Regions from separate parts of the Homo sapiens genome. Here regions 2, 3 and 4 are each linked to region 1. The links come from fine-mapping of genetic effects on gene expression. A gene starts in region 1. Each other region holds a variant in brackets. All regions are shown on one strand. Distances are between the middles of the regions.

Evidence for each region. PIP is the estimated chance that this variant, and not a neighbour inherited with it, causes the effect.
Region 2: its variant is fine-mapped to the expression of MIR3945HG in whole blood (INTERVAL, PIP above 0.99).
Region 3: its variant is fine-mapped to the expression of MIR3945HG in whole blood (INTERVAL, PIP above 0.99).
Region 4: its variant is fine-mapped to the expression of MIR3945HG in whole blood (INTERVAL, PIP 0.99).

What each region holds. Positions count from the first base shown.
Region 1 is chr4:184,853,439-184,858,591 of GRCh38, forward strand. MIR3945HG (MIR3945 host gene) reads right to left here and starts at 2,214. Exons shown (of 3, transcript NR_132989.1): 1 at 2,031-2,214.
Region 2 is chr4:184,789,178-184,794,330 of GRCh38, forward strand. All of the region lies in intron 2 of ACSL1 (acyl-CoA synthetase long chain family member 1), which reads right to left. Among named protein-coding and RNA genes, the nearest start is that of ACSL1, 34 kb to the right of the region's middle. The variant A/G (reference allele first, on the strand shown) is at 2,439.
Region 3 is chr4:184,831,475-184,836,627 of GRCh38, forward strand. All of the region lies in intron 2 of LOC105377587 (a long non-coding RNA gene), which reads left to right. Among named protein-coding and RNA genes, the nearest start is that of ACSL1, 8.1 kb to the left of the region's middle. The variant CATTTATTTATTT/C (reference allele first, on the strand shown) is at 2,914.
Region 4 is chr4:184,558,277-184,563,429 of GRCh38, forward strand. It overlaps the pseudogene LOC100129245. Among named protein-coding and RNA genes, the nearest start is that of LINC02427, 23 kb to the left of the region's middle. The variant C/T (reference allele first, on the strand shown) is at 2,152.

The DNA.
Region 1 (5,153 bases):
TGTCTGACTAAAGTTTGTCATCCTATTTCTGTGCTAAAGCTTCTACAGCAGTCCCTGTTGCTTACCAGGTGAGGCCCAGCATCCTCACGGACCATCCCGGATCTCCGTAACGTAGCTCCACTGATCTGCTCCAGTGACTGCCTTCTGCTCCCAGAGTGGCACCTCCTTAACCACCCTCACCTTCCTACGCAGTGAATGAAGTGCAGACATGAATCCTGAGTCTGCCATTTAGTACTTCTCTAAAACTGACTTCTTGTATTTGTAAAATACCCGCCTCACAATCTCAGGATTGCTGTGAGCATCGTATATAATGAGTGCAAAGGGCCCGGCATAGTGCAAGGGACATGATAGGTGCATAACGAATAGGACCCACTGAGGCTGTTACTCATATTTCTGCTCTTGTGCCTTGTTCGTGTTATTCTCTACATATGAAATGTTTGTACTTCCTATTGCTCTGGCCTGACAGTCCTTAAGGGCTAAATTCCATCTTTACTAAATGTTTCCTTGGCTCTAACACACATTGATCTCTCCCCTCCCCAATTCTGAATGCACTTTCTTTTTTCTTTTTTTTTTTTTTGAGACAGAGTCTCGCTCTGTCGCCCAGCCTGGAGTGCAGTGGCGCGATCTCGGCTCACTGCAAGCTCCGCCTCCCGGGTTCATGCCATTCTCCTGCCTCAGCCTCCCGAGTAGCTGGGACTACAGGCGCCCACCACCACGCCCAGCTAATTTTTTGCATTTTTAGTAGAGACGGGGTTTCACCGTGTTAGCCAGGATGGTCTCGATCTCCTGACCTCGTGATCTGCCCGCCTCGGCCTCCCAAAGTGCTGGGATTACAGGCGTGAGCCACCGTGCCCGGCCCTCTGAATGCACTTTCTATATACACCAGGTGGCTGGTGTTATCTACTGTCTTATTCTTGAATGGCTTTGGGTAAGCGAGCCTCATAAGTTACTGGTGAGCTTGCTTGTATTGCTTCTGTGCTCCTCTCAAAGCTACTGGCACACTGTACCAAAGTGATTTGTTCATTGATTGATGGAGAAATGTAAACATTGGGACAAATCAGAGAGAAAAAAGGGCAAATTGGACATTATCTTGTTCGATTTCAGTTGGCAGTCAATGGTTTGTGTTCAAATTATCCTACAGAGGCTTGAACCAGGAGGGGAGGTTCAGAAAACAGATGGTGGGAAAGAGAACAGATCTCTGTATTATGGAGCTTTGACTTTAAAATTATTTCTCTTAAAGAAGAGATAGACCCAAAAGGAAATGATCTGAGATAAATTTCCAGGGACCAGTAAGACAGAAGTACCACTAAATATGAAGAGGCAGTGGACTGGGAATAATGAGAGAAGACCCAGGCAATCATGCCTGTAAGTTACGATAAAGAAAACAGGAAGCACATTTCGACAGAAAAACCATACTTTACATTAAAGAAGTGAGATTGTGTCTGTTGCAAGAGTGAGAGGGAAAGCCCGCAACGACCTCAGGGACCCAGTGAATTAGCTCACGGGAAGCCCAGGGCCTCTTTTGCTAGCTGCTAATGAAGGGAATTAGATAACCATGTTATTTTGAAAGAAAACAGATTATGTTTATTGAATGATCTAAAAGAAGCGAAAAGGGCTAGGTAAAGATGCCATGTTTTGGATTCTGATGTTGGGTCACACCAGGGCGCCCATTCTTCTGTATTCACAAAATGCCCAAATAGGGAGAGGTCTTGCCAGGCGCGTGAACTCGCCACTGTGGCTGAGCAACAAAGGTACATTGAAAGGAAGCGTGTGTGTTTGTGGCTTTGAGCCCCTTTTCCTATTCTGCTGAAGATTAGGAAATTATAGGTTATACTGCTTGAAATGAAGACAGAGTAAATGGTAGGAGGGTTGTAAATCACCTGCGAAGCACCGTCTTCGACCATGCCATATAGCAAGGCTACCCAAAACACTCCAGTCTCTAATTTGTTCAACTTAAAGAATAAGAGGGATATGTCAGTCAGGACCTGCTAACTGCTGTATCAGACAACCCCAGATCCCTAACGACTTACCTCACAGTCATCAGGGGCTAGACAAGTGACCTTCCACACGATAATTCAGAGATACTGCTCCTTTCCTGTAGTTCTCCAGTCCTCAGCACAGGGTCTCAAGATCATCTAGCATCGACCAGTCAGCAAATGTCGGAAGAGGAAAGATAGCTTCCTTAGTCCCTAAGAGACAGCATCTCGTTTTCACTACATTCCACTGGTGAGAACTACTCATATGGCCACACCTAGACACAGCGGTGACTGGAAAGTTAATTTGATTGTGTTTCCAGGAAAAGGAGATAGGCTTGGTGAGTCAGTCTCTCTAGAGGAAAATATGGAACTGGGTTGGATTAAAAAAAATCCAGGCTGGGCGCGGTGGCTCATGCCTGTAATCCCAGCACTTTGGGAGGCCAAGGCGGGTGGATCACCAGAGGTCAGGAGTTCGAGACCAGCGTGGCCAACATGGTAAAACTCCGTCTCGATTAAAAATTAAAAAAAAAAAATTAGCCGGGTGTGGTGGTGGGCGCCTGTAATCCCAGCTACTCAGGAGACTGAGGCAGGAGAATAGCTTGAACCCGGGAGGCAGAGGTTGTAGTGAGCTGAGACTGCACCACTGCACTCCAGCCTGGGTGACAGAGTGAGACTCCGTCTCAAAAAAAAAAAAAAAAAAAAAAAATTCAGGTAATGATTTATATGTTTCTATCAAGCAATATGCCTATAAACATGGAATGATTGAATTTTCAGTTTCAAATACATGTTTTGGGTTGTGAAGACTCAAAAAGCTTGTGGGTCTCTTTGTTTTTGTCAAAGTATATGAATAAACGAGGATTGCAGAAGTTTACTTGTGGAATGAATGCATTAGTAAATTAATGAAGCTTTCTCCTGTACTGAAAGAAGAGTATAAGGTCATGACTCATGGTCATGAGGTAGGAAATAATTCTGCTCACCAAGAAACAAGGACATTTTAAATATCTAAAAAAGCAGAAATGAGAAAGGAAGCATGAAAAATAATCATTTAGCCAACAGTTACAGCACCTACTGACAGACAGAAAGTACAGGGCATTGACATAGTTTAAATCCAGTGACTTCCGTTTTTCCTAATAGAATCAGAGTGATAATGCATTTTAAAGGTTATTTTTATTATTTCATGTCTCCAAACCATTTTCAGAGGGAAATTATCATGGCTGTCACAACAGTAGCTTAATACACAAGGTTGATGGTATTTTACAAAAGTGTCACAAGTGGATTTTAAAGTTAAAAAAAAAAAGGGGGGCTGAGTGCAGTGGCTCATGTCTGTAATCCCAGCACTTTGGGAGGCTGAGTCGGGCGGATCACCCGAGGTCACGAGTTCGAGACCAGCCTGGACAACATGGTGAAACCCCGTCTCTACTAAAAATACAAAAATTATCCAGGTGTGGTGGTGCGCGCCTGTAATCCCAGCTACTCTGGAGGCTGAGGCAGGGGAATCACTTGAACCCTGGAGGCAGAGGTTGCAGTGAACTGAGATTGCACCACTATACTCCAGCCTGGGTGACAGGGGGAGACTCCATCTCAAAAATAAAAAATAATAAATAAGGTTAAAAAAAAGATCAGTATGATATAGCTTATATGAATAGAAAAGATGATTCTCGAACAATAGCATGAGGCATATGAGTTGAAAATAAAGCCTAGAGGTCTTCACCTACAGCAGAGAAAATTTTCACTCTCCCCCACCCCACAGAAGACAGACAGACCTACCCCAAAATTAAAATGACATTAGCCCCATAAGCATGTTTCCCTCCTCAGGTAACAAAGAAGATACCTCAGTTCTAAATCCACACAGTTTTAAAGATGTCATATATTTAATGCTCTTTTTTTTTTCTTTTTTTTTTGAGATGGAGTCTTGCTCTGTCACCCAGGCTGGAGTGCAGTGGCACGATCTTGTCTCACTGCAACCTCTGCCTCCCGGGTTCAAGCAATTCTCTGCCTCAGCCTCCCGAGTAGCTGGGATTACAGGTGCCCGCCACCACATCCAGCTAATTTTTGAATTTTTAGTAGAGACGGGGTTTCACCATCTTGGCCAGTCTGGTCTTGAACTCCTGACCTCGTGATTCACCTGCCTTGGCCTCCCAAAGTGCTGGGATTACAAGCGTGAGCCACCATGCCCGGCCTAATGCTCATTCTAACTAGAAGGAAGTAAAGCCTCAGAACAGTAAAATGATTTGCCACATGTCACAGTTGCAATAAACAGTTCAAGTCCACTCCATAAAGAGATACTAGCAATCCTACGGTTTGTCGAAAGCCAGGCTTCTCGGATAACAAAATATTCTAGGTTCTTTGACAAAATGGGTGATGGGAAGTAAGGAGGAGGGCCTAGTTTCTGAAGCTGCAGGTCATGTAAGGAGCTTGCCCTCAGGCTGGCAAGGCCTAGGAATGGGGGGTGCAGGCGGCCTTCAAGTGCCTGGGGGCCAAGAGGAAGTGCTGCTGTCCCCTGAAATCTTTTTATGGGAGGAACTGACACTGTGGGTCTGTTCAAGTCCCCAAAATGGGGACAGGCTGGGGGCTGAGGACACAGACTCAAGGCCCCTCATTGGCAGTCATGGCCAGGCCAAGGAGCCCAGCTCAGGGCTGCTGGCTTATTCTCAAGCCCCCCAGGGATGTGAAGAGGGGTGCAGAGACTCACGTTTTGCACCCACGGAGTCCAGGACTGGGGTGTTAGAAGTGGGGTAGATTTAGTGGACACAGCAGATCAAGTGCATGTGAAGAGCGCCGCAGCAGCTCTGCATCTCCCAAAGGTCCCAGCTGGTCCTCTGAAGACCCGGGATCACAACTCCACATCGTCACCTCGGGGTCCCAAAGGTCCCAGCTGGTCCTCTGAAGACCCGGGATCACAACTCCACATCGTCACCTCGGGGTCCCAAAGGTCCCAGCTGGTCCTCTGAAGACCCGGGATCACAACTCCACATCGTCACCTCGGGGTCCCAAAGGTCCCAGCTGGTCCTCTGAAGACCCGGGATCACAACTCCACATCGTCACCTCGGGGTCCCAAAGGTCCCAGCTGATCCTCTGAAGACCCGGGATCACAACTCCACATCGTCACCTCGGGGTCCCAAAGGTCCCAGCTGGTCCTCTGAAGACCCGGGATCACAACTCCACATCGTCACCTCG
Region 2 (5,153 bases), 64 kb before region 1:
TAAACACAGGCTTCGGGGAACCACGGCTAAGTCAGAAAGATGCCTGAAGAGAGAAAACAGGTTTACAGACCTACAAGTGCTGGTCCTGCCGGATAAGGCCAAAGAGAGCAAGAGAAGAGCCACAAACTGCCACCACTACACACATTGACAGTTCTCAAGCCACTGCCATCCACAGCACAGAGGACTGATCCTGTTCAGCTCTGGTGGAAATGAAACCCCATTTGGTTATACTTCTAAAATGTTACCTATATTCTTTTTGAGACTATTTCCACTATTTTATCTCCTCACCAAGCGCAATATCATCTGTTAGAAACTTCACTTTCTTGCATAGCATCTCTAACAGTTAAAATCATCAGCTACAAAACATATGCATGTGCAGACACAGGTCTTTATTAGTTTTAGGTGCAACATTTATAGGTGTGCAGATTTGACATCGCTGTGCACCTTTCTCTAAGTCGTCTTCATCTGTTAGCTTCCTGAGTATATTTGCTATGTGCAAGAACTCCTAATGATGGATAAGGCGGCAGGGCCTAGCCTCCCACAGTAGCAGCAGTAGTCTTTACAGGTAGCAGGTCTCCAATGTGAGCTGCTGAGTCCTCTGGGGCCAAAGGACACTGTAAGGCATCCAGACATCCACAGAAAGCCAAAAAGCAGTCTTTAGAGACTGATAAATAAAAGCTCAGTGACTATGACGTTAGAGCCTACCTTTTTTTTTTTTTTTAATTTCAGAGAGGGGCCTTCACTTTTACAACAGTCTGGAAACCCTTGGAGAAATTAGACTGTGATATGATAACCTCTGGTACCAAGAGGAGAGAGCTGTCCAAAAGTGGAAGAGATCGTTTCTGGCTTAAGGTGTGATGAAACAAAACAGGAGACACCAAAAAGAAGTGTGGAAAAGCTAGGTCTCAGAGTAGGGCGGCAGGCTGAGGAGGGCCGCGCTGAGGAGGAAGTGGATGGGTGCCAGGGGATGAACTCACAGGGAGACCCTTTAGAAGGGGATGACTGCCTGATCTGTTTCCATGGACTCTTCTATTTTTATTAGGATTATCCATTTCTCTTCCTACAAGCTCTTTTGCTTTTTGTCCACCCTTAAGTTATAATGTATATACTGTTTAAAAACATTTAAGTGATACAGAAGTATATCAAGGAAAAATGATGACTATTAGTAGTTTGGTAAATTCCTCCCAGTCTTTTTTTTATGCTTATACATTTATAGACATTCTGTCAATATCTACTGTGTGCTACATGTGTGTATTTCACTCTTGATCCCAAACTGCTAATAGTTTTCTGGAGTAAATATGACCTAACCATATCTTTTAATCATCACAATGTCTTCTCTCTCGGCAGAAACTTTCTAACACCTATGGCTGTGATTCCAAACATGCTTACTAACTACAGCACACTACTTTATGAAGCAAAAACGTTATTCTCTGTGTGCATAAGAATGGGAGAATATCTTTGCTTAGTGTCACGCATTATTGTTACTTAATCGCTGAGTCTGTTTTCTTTTCTGTAAAATGGAGACATCATGAGTCCACTTCCAGGGTTATTTTTTGTTAAAGAGGAACTTTCCTGTAAAATATGATTGTGTAGAATATTACTTGTGCACCCGATAACATGCTCTAACTACAGTACAAGTCCTCCATCACCTCAGTCTTGACTCCAACAAATAGCCTGAAATTCAGAAGCAATTTTGTGGCTTTGTAGTGAATATCAGAAGCCTTTTCAACCCATGAAGCCACCAAACACACCGAAGGCACCAAGGCTAAGGTAGGAAGAGAAAGGGGGAAAGGACAAAATGAGAGAAAACAGGAAGAATGAGTGGGTGTGAAAAGAGATAAGAAAAGTACCAAGTATGATGGTGAAGTGTGGTTGTCTCAGCATGGCCTAGACATGCAGGTGGCCTGGCCGCCCACAGGGAGGTCCTCACGATGCTCTGCTTACAAAGGTGCCTTCTATACCTCTTGACACAACAGAAATGCATTCATGGTCTTTTTCAGTGCTCTCTCTTCAAAAGCAACACCACTTTCTGCACTCTGCAGAGGAGTTCCCCTAGCTGTGAATGGGCAGATGGGGATAAGGTGAACAAGACACAAGCTTGTTCTGAAGGAGCCCACGTCTTGTCTCTAAGTGACCACAGGGACTCCAGGGAACCCTGGCTGAGCAGAAGAGTGCAGGGAGAGTCAGGATGAACAGACAGAAGCAAGCCTGAAATCTCAGGTGCACAGGCTCATTCTAGAGCCAAGCTTCTCAAAGTGTGCTCTGCGGAACACCTGGCACTGGTTAGGAAAGCAAATCACACCAGACCTGCTGAATCCGAAACTCTGGGGATGCGATCCAGCAATCTGTGCTTTAAGAAGCCCTCCAGGGGATGCTAAAGTTTGAGAAGCACCTTCCTAGGGACAGCAGGTTTCCAGCAGGGAAGTTTTCAGCAGGGA[A/G]GTGGTGAGGATGGGCTAATGGGTTAGAAAGAAATCTACAAGAAGCGTAAGCAGTGTGTGGAACAGGAGGGAGGGAAGAGACTGGGGAGAAACCAACTCCTACAGACCTGGATAGGGCAGTGGGAGTTGGGAGCCGGGAAGGACCAAGGCACTGGGCGTGCTGCAGCACTCAGGAACAGGATTTAACAGGTAATGGGGTGTAAGCAGAAAGAAGGAGGGCTGAGAAGAAAAACTGTCCCCTTTAATCAAATAGAAGACTGGGTACTGGGGGTAGGCTTCAGAAAAGAGATGAAGTTTAGCTTTGGACATACAGAGACCATATCCCTTCAAGACAGGTCAACCACCTTGGTCAATGTCCCAAATTTTATTTTGAGAACCACTGCTCTGGAGGACCATTTTATAACAAACTTTTAGCTAAATAATTTTTTAGTTAGGTTTAAGTTTTTGGTGGTGTATAATCTTCTGGAATCCGAGAAACATGGAGGCAAACAAGCTAAATCAAAGTTAAAGAAGTGAATGATATCCCCAATAAAGCAACATCTTGACATGTAACCTGGGGCAAGATATTTATTATTACCCTAATTAGCAATTAGAATAATGAGAAAAGCTTGAAAATGAAGCAGTAAATGAGACATCTGTCAAAAGGAGACACTAATTGAAGGCTCGATGATACGGGATAAAAGGTCACACTGTCACTCAGTTGTCAGACATAACTGTAATTTCAAGAAAGGGGGTTGAATAAGAAGGGGAAGGGCACAAAACATTAGGATCTGTGCTTCAAAATCTGTGGCTCTATGAAAAGACCACACATTCTAATAATGAATTATTTTTTTTTCCCGAAACAGGGGCAGGCTCTGTCGCCCAGGCTAGAGTTCAGTGGCATTATCAGAGCTCACTGCCGTCTCAACCGTCTGACTGAGCTCAAGCAATCCTCGCACTTAGCCTCCTGAGTAGCTGAAACCACAGACACGTGCCACCTTGCTTGGCTAATCTGTTTATTATTTGTAGAGGCAAGGTCTCACTATGTTGCCCAGGCTGGTCTCAAACTCCTGGGCTCAAGGGATCCTTCCGCCTAGGCCTCCCAAAGTATTGGGATGACAGGTGTGAGCCACTGCGCCTGGCCCAGTGTTGCTATTTTTTGAACAGAAATGCTATATTTAAAAAAGGGTGTTAGCAACCTTAGTTATATCTACACAAGCAAGGGGTTGCAAGCTGAGTGCTGGGAAGCAAAGCTGTAACAATTGGAGTCTGAAATGCTTGTAGGTTTTACAAGACAGAATCACTTCAAAAGCTGGGGACTTAAATACTATATTAGGTAAGTCCACGTAGCTATTTCTAGGGACGCCTATTTAAATGAAAAATAGCTTAAATTTGGCCCTTACGGCCTTCTGACATAACCTACTGATCAGCAGGCAGTGTGTGTGGGTCGCTTGGGCTCAAGAAACAGGGCAAGCAAAGCAGACAACCCCAGCTGAATGTGTAGGAAATCAGTCATGAGCCAGTGAGTCAGCAGGCTTTAGGAGTCTTTTATTCCTCCTGCTATAGACCTCTTTAATGTGGTTACATAGTGTTCCCAGTTAAAAAAAAAAAAAAAAAAGATAGTGAGTCAAACCCACTACAGTGAAATCGGTGGTCATGAGTATATTCCGCAACATCTCTACAAGCTCAGGTTCCTCCTGAGGTCAGTCTCCCCACAAGGGCTGAATTAGGAAACAAGTTCAAGTCCCCCTTGGGGGCAGGAAGGGCAGGAAAACCGTGAACATCTGCATATCAAAGGTTTCCGAGGCCAGAACTCTCACCAATATTTGACTAACAGGAACGCGATGGCCAGTTATTTTGTGCCACTCTCCTATTTAAGTGCAAAAGCAAATGATGCCGTTGAGGATTTCTTAGGGGTAGAGAAGCCCAAGCTTTACCACTCATAGACTCATTCATCTCCATCTCCAAATGGGCATCTGCCAGCCATAGCAGTTAAATGCCCCTTGTGTTGCTACTGTTTATGCAGGAGAGGGATAGGGAGGTGGACGCAGGGCGAAAGTGAGAAGGGAGAGTGAGAGAGAGGAGGGCAAGGAGTAGAAGGGGGAGAGGCAGAGCCAAGTAACTTCTAAAGAGACTGCCAAAGACGTGGCTGGGTTCTAATGCGGGATCCATCTCTAGGGTGCAAAGGAGCATGTAGAACCACAGTCCGGGGGTAAAAATGATTCCTTTTTGTTCCTTCTAATACCTAACATGTGGTCTATACAGCTGTTCCCCTTCAGGATACCCAAATCCAGATGCTCAAGTCCCTGATATAAAATGGCATAGTATTTGCATATAACCTATGCACATCTTTCTGTATACTCTAAATGGTCTCTATATTACTCACAATACCTAATATGATGTAAATAAGTAGCTGTTATACCGTATTGTTCAGGGAATAATGACAAGGAAAAAATGTCTGGCAATGTTCAATAGACAATACCATCCATTTATTTCCATGGAATATTTTTAATCCACGGATACAGAGCGCCAACCGCGTCCTTCTCAGCATTTACATTTTACACGCATCTTAGCCTGCTCAGAACTCCATCATGTGCTTCTTTTTGTAAAGACACAAAACTACTTTTCCATCCAGTGACCTTTCAGAGAGGAACTCTGGCCATCAATTCTCATATCTAGCAGACTACATCTTTGATATATTACACTAGGTCTTTTAAAGGCCAGCCCCTGGGCAAC
Region 3 (5,153 bases), 22 kb before region 1:
TGATGTTTTTCTTACGATTAGACTGGGGTTATAGGTTTTTAGGAGGAAGGCCACATGTGACATTTTTATAATATAATTTTCTACAGGAAGAAAATTCGGACTTTTCTCTACCATGATTGATGGGCTTTTCTTACATTGTTAGTTTTGATTCAAAATCAAAACTATGTGGATGGGTACCAAATTCATTGCTTTTCATTTTAAATGAATGCTGATTGGAAAAATTTTCAGTGGTAAACCTACCGGCTATGTCCATTTCACTCCGTGTTTCTCTTCCCCTGCCCATCTCCTAAGATGCCTTAGGAGAGGGGAAATATGATCTCTGGCCTTGAACCTCCTGCCAGGATGCTAGATAAGTTGACAGAGAGGGTGGAGAAATATACCTGAAGGCATTCCTGTGCGGAGAAAGCTAGAGCTATACATGCAAGTCCCTGTGAATTCCGTAACTACATCTCCCCAGACCCAAAGAAATGTATGTTCAGCTCCAGCTCTTGTTAGCTGGGTTCCAAAGATGACCTTGGTCACTTCAGCACCATAATGGGATGAGGTGGTGACAGAAGAGACTTTGCATAGAGTGCACCAACTGTGCTATGTGCTGTATCAACTGATTGCAGCTACGTGGTCTTACTTTTGCAAATTTTGTGGAAACATTTAACCATGTGACTAGGTTGCCAGAGCCCCTCCCGAGGTCTCACAAGGGGCTTCTATAAATGAGAAGCCCTAAAAATCAAGCTATGTGAGCCTCGCAATGAATCTACTCCCGTTGGCAATGCTTTTTGCACCGTTATGATGCCACTGCTTGGACTTGCTAGTTCAACTCTCCTGGGCTTCAGCGGTAGTGAAGAAGAAGCATTTCCACCAGGCCGACACTGTTCTAACACTACTGATAATTATCCTGTGGTCTTCAGTGGCCCTAATGAAGTCATAGTCCCTTTCTCCACACCCCTTTTAGTTTTAACATGCACTTGATCCACTGGCTTCATCCACTCCATGTGGGAGAACAATCCACAGCTGCTTAGGCCGCAGCTGCCCAGGGTTTCCCCTCTCTTTTCTGGGTTGGAGGACTCCAGCTCTCCCAGACTCACTGCTCAGGCCTTCTCCTGGCATTGCAGTTCTGCCCCAACACAGAGCTGACAAACCAGGGCGTCTAGACCCCACCCTGCGTCCCCACAGCACTCTATTTTTTTGTTCTTGGAAGTGATATGAAGATCTTATGTAGTCAATGTCAAAAAGAAATGATAATTACTTCATTTTTCCCACTCAACTGGCCACTTATTCCCAACTAGTAAAATTCAACCTCTGCAAGGGTTTCTAAGGCACCCTTCATAACCTGACCCTGCTTTCCCCGCCAACAAGTTCATATCATTTTCCTCTCCAGCTATCTGTAGTCAAGAGTAAAAAGTCTGGAGTCACACAGGTTGGAACCAATTCCACTACTCACTAGTTCAGACCCAAGGCAAGTAACTGTCAAATCCCTGTCTTTCTTATCTGCTGAGTGAATATAATACTGTATTGCATCAAATCTAAATCATCAATTGTAAGATGCACTATTAATTTATGTAGCCCTGATAAAGAAAAGAATTTCTGCTGATTTTAATTGCAAAACATTGTCCTTTGGAAGATGCACCCTCTATCAATTCGCTTTTGCTGTATGACAAATCACACCAAAACTTAATGGCTTAACACCACAATCATTCATTAGCTCATCATTCTGTGGGTCGGCACTTGGGCTAGGTTCAGCTGGGTGGTTCCCCTGCTGGTCTCTCTTAGGCTCAGTCCTGCAGCCACCAATAGCTGGTGGATCAGCTGGGGCCAGATGCTCTGGGATAGCCTCATTTACATGTCTGATGGTTGGCTGACAATTTGCTGAGGCTCCTCAGTTCTTCACATGGCCACCCTAGCAAACTAGCTCAAGCGTGTTCAAATAGTAGTGTCACGGCTACAAGCACAGCAAAGGGGACAAGCCTCAGGGCATAAATGCTTTTCAAACCCCTTGCATCATGTTTGCGTGCTTGAATCCAGGCAGTCTGGTTCCAGACCCTCGACTCTTAACCTGCAGAGAGTTCCGTCTTACTGGAGAGGGGAATGAGAGCAGGGATGGGTCCCGTTGGCTAAAGCAAGCCACATGACCAAGTCAAGACTCAGTATGGGAAAGAGCTACTGAAGCACATGGGTACGAGGAGGAGAATTTTGCTGGTTATTTTGCAATCTACCCACATCCTGACTGTGTACATAAAAAAGTCTGAAGAAATTTGTACTAAGAGTGCACAAGTACTAAGAGTAGTAGTGCTTGCCTCAAAGAGTTGAGTAGTAGGGCTCTGTGAGATAATGTCAGTAATATCACTTAGTACAGTGCGTGGCCCCTGGTCAATGTTCTGTACGTACTATTACTATCACATTTGTGTCCGTGCTTCTTTCTACCAGAAAGCTGGTAAATTCATGTTTATCCTCCCAATCCTAACTCAGACATCACTTTCCCTAGGACACACACACAATTTGTTGCTCCCAGAGCTGTGCCACCCTGTACTTTACACACATTGCCTTTGTTGCAGCAGGTTGTCATTCTTGTGCTTCTGTGGGCCTGGCTTTGGGCTTTTTGGTAGCAGATATTCTGTGTCTAGACACCTTCCATCCCCAATACAGTGCCTGGCACTTGATATGTGTTTATTTAATTGAAGTGACATGTTACTTCCAATAGAACTTCTTCTCATTCCCCTGGGTATCATCTTCCTTTCCTCTGGGGATGCTCCCACAGCACCCTACCATCTTTCTAGTGTAGGACTTGTGACACTGAGCTGTGATGACTTGTTTGCGTAACATGCACACATAAAGAATTTTCCTTATTTCTTTATATTACACAGAGCTCCCCAGTACCATGACTAGCGGTAGCAGCAAATACTCTATAAATACCTGTTA[CATTTATTTATTT/C]ATTTATTTATTTATTTATTTATTTTTGAGACCGAGTCTCACTCTGTCACCCAGGCTGGAGTGAAGTGGTGCAATCTCAGCTCACTGCAACCTCCACCTCCCGGTTCAAGTGATTCTCGTGCCTCAGCCTCCCGAGTAGTTAGGATTACAGGCACCTGCCACCAGGACCAGCTAATTTTTGTATTTTTAATGGAGACAGTGTTTCACCACGTTGACTGGGCTGGTCTCAAACTCCTGACCTCAGGTGGTCTGCTCACCTTGGCCTCCCAAAGTGCTGGGATTATAGGCATGAGCCACTGCGCCTGGCCAACACCTGTTAAATTTAGAAAACAGAGTTTTCAATCTCTGTCTTACACCCAAGAAGGCCTGTGGCCCAGAGATCCGGAGTAAAATTAGATTCAGTATTTAATCCATCAATAGCTCGTTCTTACTGCATCCCTAGGGTATGAACTCTGCTGACTTTTCTCTCCTCTTTAGATCACAACCCAGTGACATCACCACTACACAGAGAATCATTGCAGGCCCTATCCATGTCTCCGTGGTCTCTCTGATCCCCCACCCCCACCCCAACACACACACCACGCGCGCTCACAAACGTCAGTATTTTATGTGAGTAGAGTGTGTCTATAAATACCATGGACAGTGGATGGGACTTGGATCAGGTCTTTTGTCACCCTATGATACCCTATGGGGGCAGGACCCCAGGACCCCATAGAGTTGGTATATTGGCTCGGAGGGATGTTGAAACTGTGAGTGGAACAACATACCACCATCCTCCACTTCCATTTGCACCCTCTACTTCTCTCCTGCAGCAGGCTGACGCCGGCCCAGAGCCTGCATACAGCCACAAGCTCACTTCTCAGCCTTTTGGAGGCCATGCACCACCTTGGGAATGCAATGGAAGATTCAGACCCTCCTCATAAACGTTTCCCACATGCTTTCTATGGGTTCCCTGGGGTCCCCAGTTAAGAGCCCTGGTGGAATAGAAAGGGCACTGGATTTGTACTTGCAGAGATCTAAGTTCAAGGTCTGATTCTACCTCTCACTAATTCTGTGGCTGATCTCTCTGAGCCTCAATTTCTACATCTGAAAATGAGGTATAGCCAGCACTGCAGGTTGTAAGGGGCCTGCTACGTGATAGGTCCTCAGTTTTGCCTTCCCCGTCTAAGCCTCCTAGGTACCTGGTTACCATTTGCAAGAGCCTGGAGCTAACAGGTGGAAGTTTCATTCCAAGTTCAGGTCTTCATGCAATCACGTGAAACCATTTACTGAGCATTTATTATGTGCTAGCCACAGTGGTAGGTGCTGGAGTATGCAAGTGTGTGTTTATACCTGGCTGTGAAAGGTATACAGAGGTGAACATAATATGAGACCTCAGGGAGCTGGTAGTATGATGACCTAGTGCCCATCTATCCACAGAATGCAATTTGCCTAAAACGTTTAGCACAAAATGTTTTACCTGATTAACCCACTACAAAGACATCTTATTATTGATACCTCCAGCGTTTCGGCTATGGGATCAAAGTCTGGCCTATGTTTGACACCCGTATATCTCTGTGAAAATACATTGTCTTCCTCGAGTCTATTAAATTCAATGCCAAGAGCCTCCATTAGGGATATTCTTGTGTAGTCAAAATTGAGTGAGATGTCTTTGGCATGAATATATTGAATGTACAGCTTTTGAAATTAGTTCACTATGGTAAATATCAATGTTTTCACTGACTGAATAAAATTGATTATAATATTGCACTCTACACAGCTAAAGATTATTAACTTTTGGGGAAATGATTTTTTATCATGGCTAAAAATCCATTTTTAAGATGCTTGTCAGGCTGTTCTTTTCAGCATAGTTCTCAATTGAAAATGTAGACAGCTCATGGCATTGTGGGCATTTGTGCTCACTGCTGAACACATTTGAATACCTCTGCTCTCACAGTCTTTTCTTCAAGTCAAACAGTCTACCAGAATGCACTAAGCTCCCATTTTGCCAAGAAGCTGGCTGTTTGAGAATAATCTGGAGAGATTCCTAAAGACTTTGATAAGTGTAATTTTTTGAAAGCTCTGTCTCTCTGGTGTCATTCCTACTGAGGCTGCTCATGTCATTCAGGTTCCATAATTTGGATGTTAAATGAAAAAAAAATGAAGCACAGTGGTCTAGTTTACAATTTAGGTTAATTGGCCTACTTCAATGTATCTCATTTTCAAGTATTTTCACCTTTACTATGAAC
Region 4 (5,153 bases), 300 kb before region 1:
ACTCCTTTCCATTTTCAATATGCATTATACTGACAGACATACTGTATTCTATGGTGAATTATATTGATTGAATTTCACATCTTAAACTAACACTGAGTTACCGTGAAAAACTCCATTGGATCATAATGTAGTATGTTTTTAATATATTTTAATACAATTTACAAAAATTCTGTTTTAAAATTACAACTATGTTCCATAAATAAATATGTAAAAAATAAAAAATGTTTGTATTATTCAAGTGAAGATTATAGAGATCTTTTTTTTAAGGGAATAAAACACTTTATTTTAAAAATTCAGGCCCGGTGCAGTGGCTCACGCCTGTAATCCCAGCAATTTGGGAGGCCGAGGCGGGCGGATCACGAGGTCAGGGGTTTGAGACCAGCCTGACCAACATGGTGAAACCCCGTCTCTACTAAAAATCTAAAAATTAGCTGGGCGTGGTGGCGGGTGCCTGTAATCCCAGCTACTCAGGAGGCTGAGGCAGGAGAATTGCTTGAACCCAGGAGGCGGAAGTTGCAGTGAGCTGAGATCGCGCCACTGCACTCCAGCCTGGGCGACAGAGCGAGACCCTGTCTCAAAAAATAACAAAATAAATAAAAAATAAAAATAAAATAAATAAAAATTCAAATATGCTTCTAATGAAAACTCCTGTCCATTTATTAAGCACCCACAGAGTGCCAGGCACCGTACAAAACATTAGAAAGACTTGTTCATGCTCTTTTAGAGCAAAATTCACTATTCCGTGGCACTTTGCATGATGCTGACATTTTAGATCCATTGTCATAAAATGACCAAGATCTTCAAGACTTGCTCGAGAAACAAGTTTCCAATCCATAGTAGAAACAGATCACGCAGGTTAATGCAGAAGGCAACTGGTGATATCTGTCAACTGTTTCACTTAACGTCCTCTCCCTCTGAAACCACCACCTCCTCTTCCACCTCTAAAACCACCGCTTCTGCCACTGCCTCTGCCACCTCCCCTTCTTCCTCCTCGGCCTCCCCTGCCACCACATCTTGGAGGTCCTTTCTCACCTGGAGGCCGAGGTAAAAACCTCTGCAGTGGCAGCAGCTCATATGGGTCTATATAAAACTTCCAGAGTTTTTTAAAGGATGAAGCCTTCTCGTTTTCTGACATTTTAACGGAAAAATAAAAATCTCTAAGTTGTCCAAATATTTCATCCGCTTTTCCAATTTGTTCTTTGTTTTCTAAGTAAACAGGAGCATTGAAATAAGACACCTTATTTTCATCTGCCGTACGTTTACAAACTATGTCATCTTCACAGGGATGCAGGAACTCTCCTAACAAGACTGCACGTTCTGGAGGTCCTTGGCCTTGGCCTTTGTCAAAGCCTCCGTGGCCACCCCCTCATCCAAATCCTCCCCTGTCGCCACCTCTGATATTTCCACCGCCTGCACCTCAGAAGCGGTTGCTGCTGCTGCCGCGGTTGAAACCGCCACCTCCACCACCTCGATCAAAGCCTCCACGACCTCCGCCCGGAAGAGACATTCTCTGTCTTCCCAGCGCCATGTGCACCTCTGGCCCTGGTCTTCAACACACACCCCTAGAGATCTTTTTGAACATATACTTGATCTCAACTAGCTTTAAATTCAGAAGTAGCAACTCCATAGCAATTCAACTTATTTCTACCTTATTAATCATACTGGTCACCTCGAAGAAGCTTCATTGCTATCATCCAGTTTAGACTGGAATATCATAAATCTCTAGACTGAGTAGCATAATACTCACTATTCAAATAAAATCAAATTTTATAATGTTATGACACCTCCAAATACAAAAAGCAAACCCATGGATGTTAGGTTAAGGTATAGAGACAAGTATTCCTACTTACTATCTTTTAGGGCAGACATATCCCAGCCAGGATGATTGCAAAATGAAATGGAAATCACATGGTGTAAGGGGACTTGGGACTCATACAGATTGAATTTTCATTCCAACTCTTACATATACAAGCTGCATGACTCTGGGTAGATGGCATATTCTCTTAGAGTTTCAGTTTCCTCGTCTGTACAACAGATGTTAACACTTACGTGTAAGGCCGGGCGCGGTGGCTCACGCCTGTAATCCCAGCACTTAGGGAGGCCGAGGCGGGGGGATCACGAGGTCAGGAGATCGAGACCATGGTGAAACCC[C/T]GTCTCTACTAAAACCACAAAAAAAAATTAGCTGGGCGTGGTGGTGGGCGCCTGCAGTCCCAGCTACTCAGGAGGCTGAGGCAGGAGAATGGCGTGAACCCGGGAGGCGGAGCTTGCAGTGAGCCGAGATCGCACCGCTGCACAACAGCCTGGGCGACAGAGCACGACTCCATCTCAAAAAAAAAAAAAAAAAAAAAAAAACCCTTATGTGTTATGGCTGACGTGGGGATAAAAGAGAACCAATACGGATGCATGGGCACGGCCTGGTCCACAGAGCAGCTGGCATCAACAAGTGGAAGCCCCCTTCCCATCTTGTCTTTACTTGCACTACAAAATTGTGAATATGTGGGTATAAAAAGTAGTCTTATAAGACACAGAATTGGAAGCTTTTGCAAAAAGAGGTTGGGAGAGTGTCACATCTTGTGGCATGAGGAGTTGTTGGCATACACTTGAGCTTTGTGCTGTGAGATATTCTTGGAACTTCAATAGCTTTAAGAGAACAGTTTAGATGTCATCTTATTAACCTACCATAACACTTTCTCTTGTTTTCAGAGATTTCTGGACAATACCTTTTACAGCTCTAATAATGTGGACTATTCTAATAGATACAAAGTGGTATTTCACCAGCAGATGCTACTGTAGTTTATATGATGATTTCAAACTGAGAATCCCTTTAAGGTTATGCAGTAGGTTTTATTGGAAATAGGATGAAAGCCCTTTAAGTCTAAAATCCTAAGAAATAGGTTTACAGCATATAATTCTTTGTTGCAATGTCTATCATACTATCTTACATCCACATACATATTGATTTCCTAATACATATGTATGAGAGTGAAAGTTATTGAGGGCAGAGACTGTGCCATATATTCCCTGCACTGCTGGTGCCTATCTCAGCACATGATATACAGTAGATGCTCAATAAATACTTTAACTTAAAAAAATGCATGGGCTGGACACAGTAGCTCAGGCCTGTAATCCAAGCACTTTGGGAGGCTGAGGCGGGTGGATCATGAGGTCAGGAGATCGAGACCATCCTGGCTAACATGGTGAAACCCCATCTGTATTAAAAATACAAAAAATTAGCCAGGCATGGTGGCAGGTGCCTGTAATCCCAGCTACTTGGGGGCTGAGGCAGGAGAATTGCTTGAACCCAGGAGGCGGAGGTTGCAGTGAACCGAGATCGCACCACTGCACTCCAGCCTAGGTGACAGAACGAGACTCCATCTCAAAAAGAAAAAAAATGCACTAAGAATAAATCAGTAGACATAAAAATACGTATGAATACAATCTACAGACGTGGTCAGGAGCTCAAAATCCAGCCTTCAACATTTAAAACCATATCCATCTTTCAAGACCCTTAGTGAAATGCAACTTTTTCCCTGAAACTCCTCTGATCCTTCCACAACCCCAGGATATAATCTTCCCCACGTTAGAGTTCCCACAGCACTTTGTACCTCTTCTCTTAAAATACTCTCCACTTTCTGCCTTACGTTATAATCTGTCCAGTGACTTAGATATACATAAACTCCTGCCTGTTGCTTGTGTTGTCCTTAGGTGTCCCCCAGTGCTGTGGGTCTTCACCAAATGCTTGCTGAATTCTCTCACCCCTTATTCAACAGCTAAGCTCTGAAATCTTAAAAGTAAACAAAAAGTTGATTATTTATTTATTTATTTAGAGACAAAGTCTCGCTCTGTCACCCAGGCTGGAGTGCAGTGACGCAATCTTGGCTTACCGCAACCTTCCTCTCCCGGGTTCAAGCGATTCTCCTGCCTCAGCCTCCTGAGTAGCTGCGATTACAGGTGCATGCCACCACGCCTGGCTAATTTTCTGTGTTTTTAGTAGAGACAGGGTTTCACCATGTTGGCCAGGATGGTGTCAAACTCCTGAGCTCAGGCGGTCCGCCCACCTCGGCCTCCTAAAATGCTGGGATCACAGGCGTCAGCCACGGCGCCTGGCTACAAAAAGTTTTAAAGTAGCTTCAAAACCCATTTGCAAATAGGTGTATGCAGAACAAGATGAAAACAAGAAAACATTGAGCTTCATATAATAGAAGGGTTCTGCCTGGATTTGCATGTGGCCCCATCATTTGTTTGCTGTTGGGCCGTGGTCAGGTTACTTAGCTGCTCTCTGCCTCCACATAGGCTTGCTGCCTGTGCATCCCTCATCTACAAAATGGGAATAATAAGAATATCTAACAATGAGAAGTGGAGAAAACGTATGTAAAGGCCTTTGAAGAGAGCTATTGAGTCAAAGCTCAATAATTGTACTCAATAATTGTCAACTACCATTCAATAATAATAATCATAATCATAAAAATATATGACTCAAAGAAAGAGTCCTACTTCATATCCAGCTTCTCAAAAGAATATCAGATATTGGACCTGTGAAAGGAATGACAATGAGATGTAGTTTCACATTGCTAAGTTGTTTTTTTCTTTTAGCCATTCAATTTCTGTAGTCCCCGCTCTAAGCCCACGGTCAACTTTTTTTTTTCCTTCTAAAATTTCTTCCCTTCTGGTAAGATTATCTTTGCCTTAAAAAGGGCCCTTTTCATCCCCCTACCCCCTTACCCTTCCCAGAAGTTGGTTAATGGGCACAAAAATACGGTTAGATAACAGAAGAAGTTCTAGTGTTCAACAGCACAGTAGGGTGACGATCGTTAACAATAACTTATTATATATTTCAAAATGGCTAGAAGATTTGGAATGTTCCCAACACAAATAAATGATAAATATTTGAGGTAATTGATATGCAAATTATCCTGATTTGATCGCTACACATTTTATGCATGTATCAAAATATCACGTGTACCCTACAAATATGTACAATTGTCATGTATCAATAAAAACAAAAAAGGGCCTGTTTCTCTTTGCCTTCCTCCCTGAATTCCCTCCTGTCCCAGATATGTGCTGTTCCTGGCACTCTCCGGCCCCCCGTTCAGCCAGCACTGAGCCAGCAGGAAGGATCTCACAGGTTATATCCTGAGGTTCAACCCTCCACC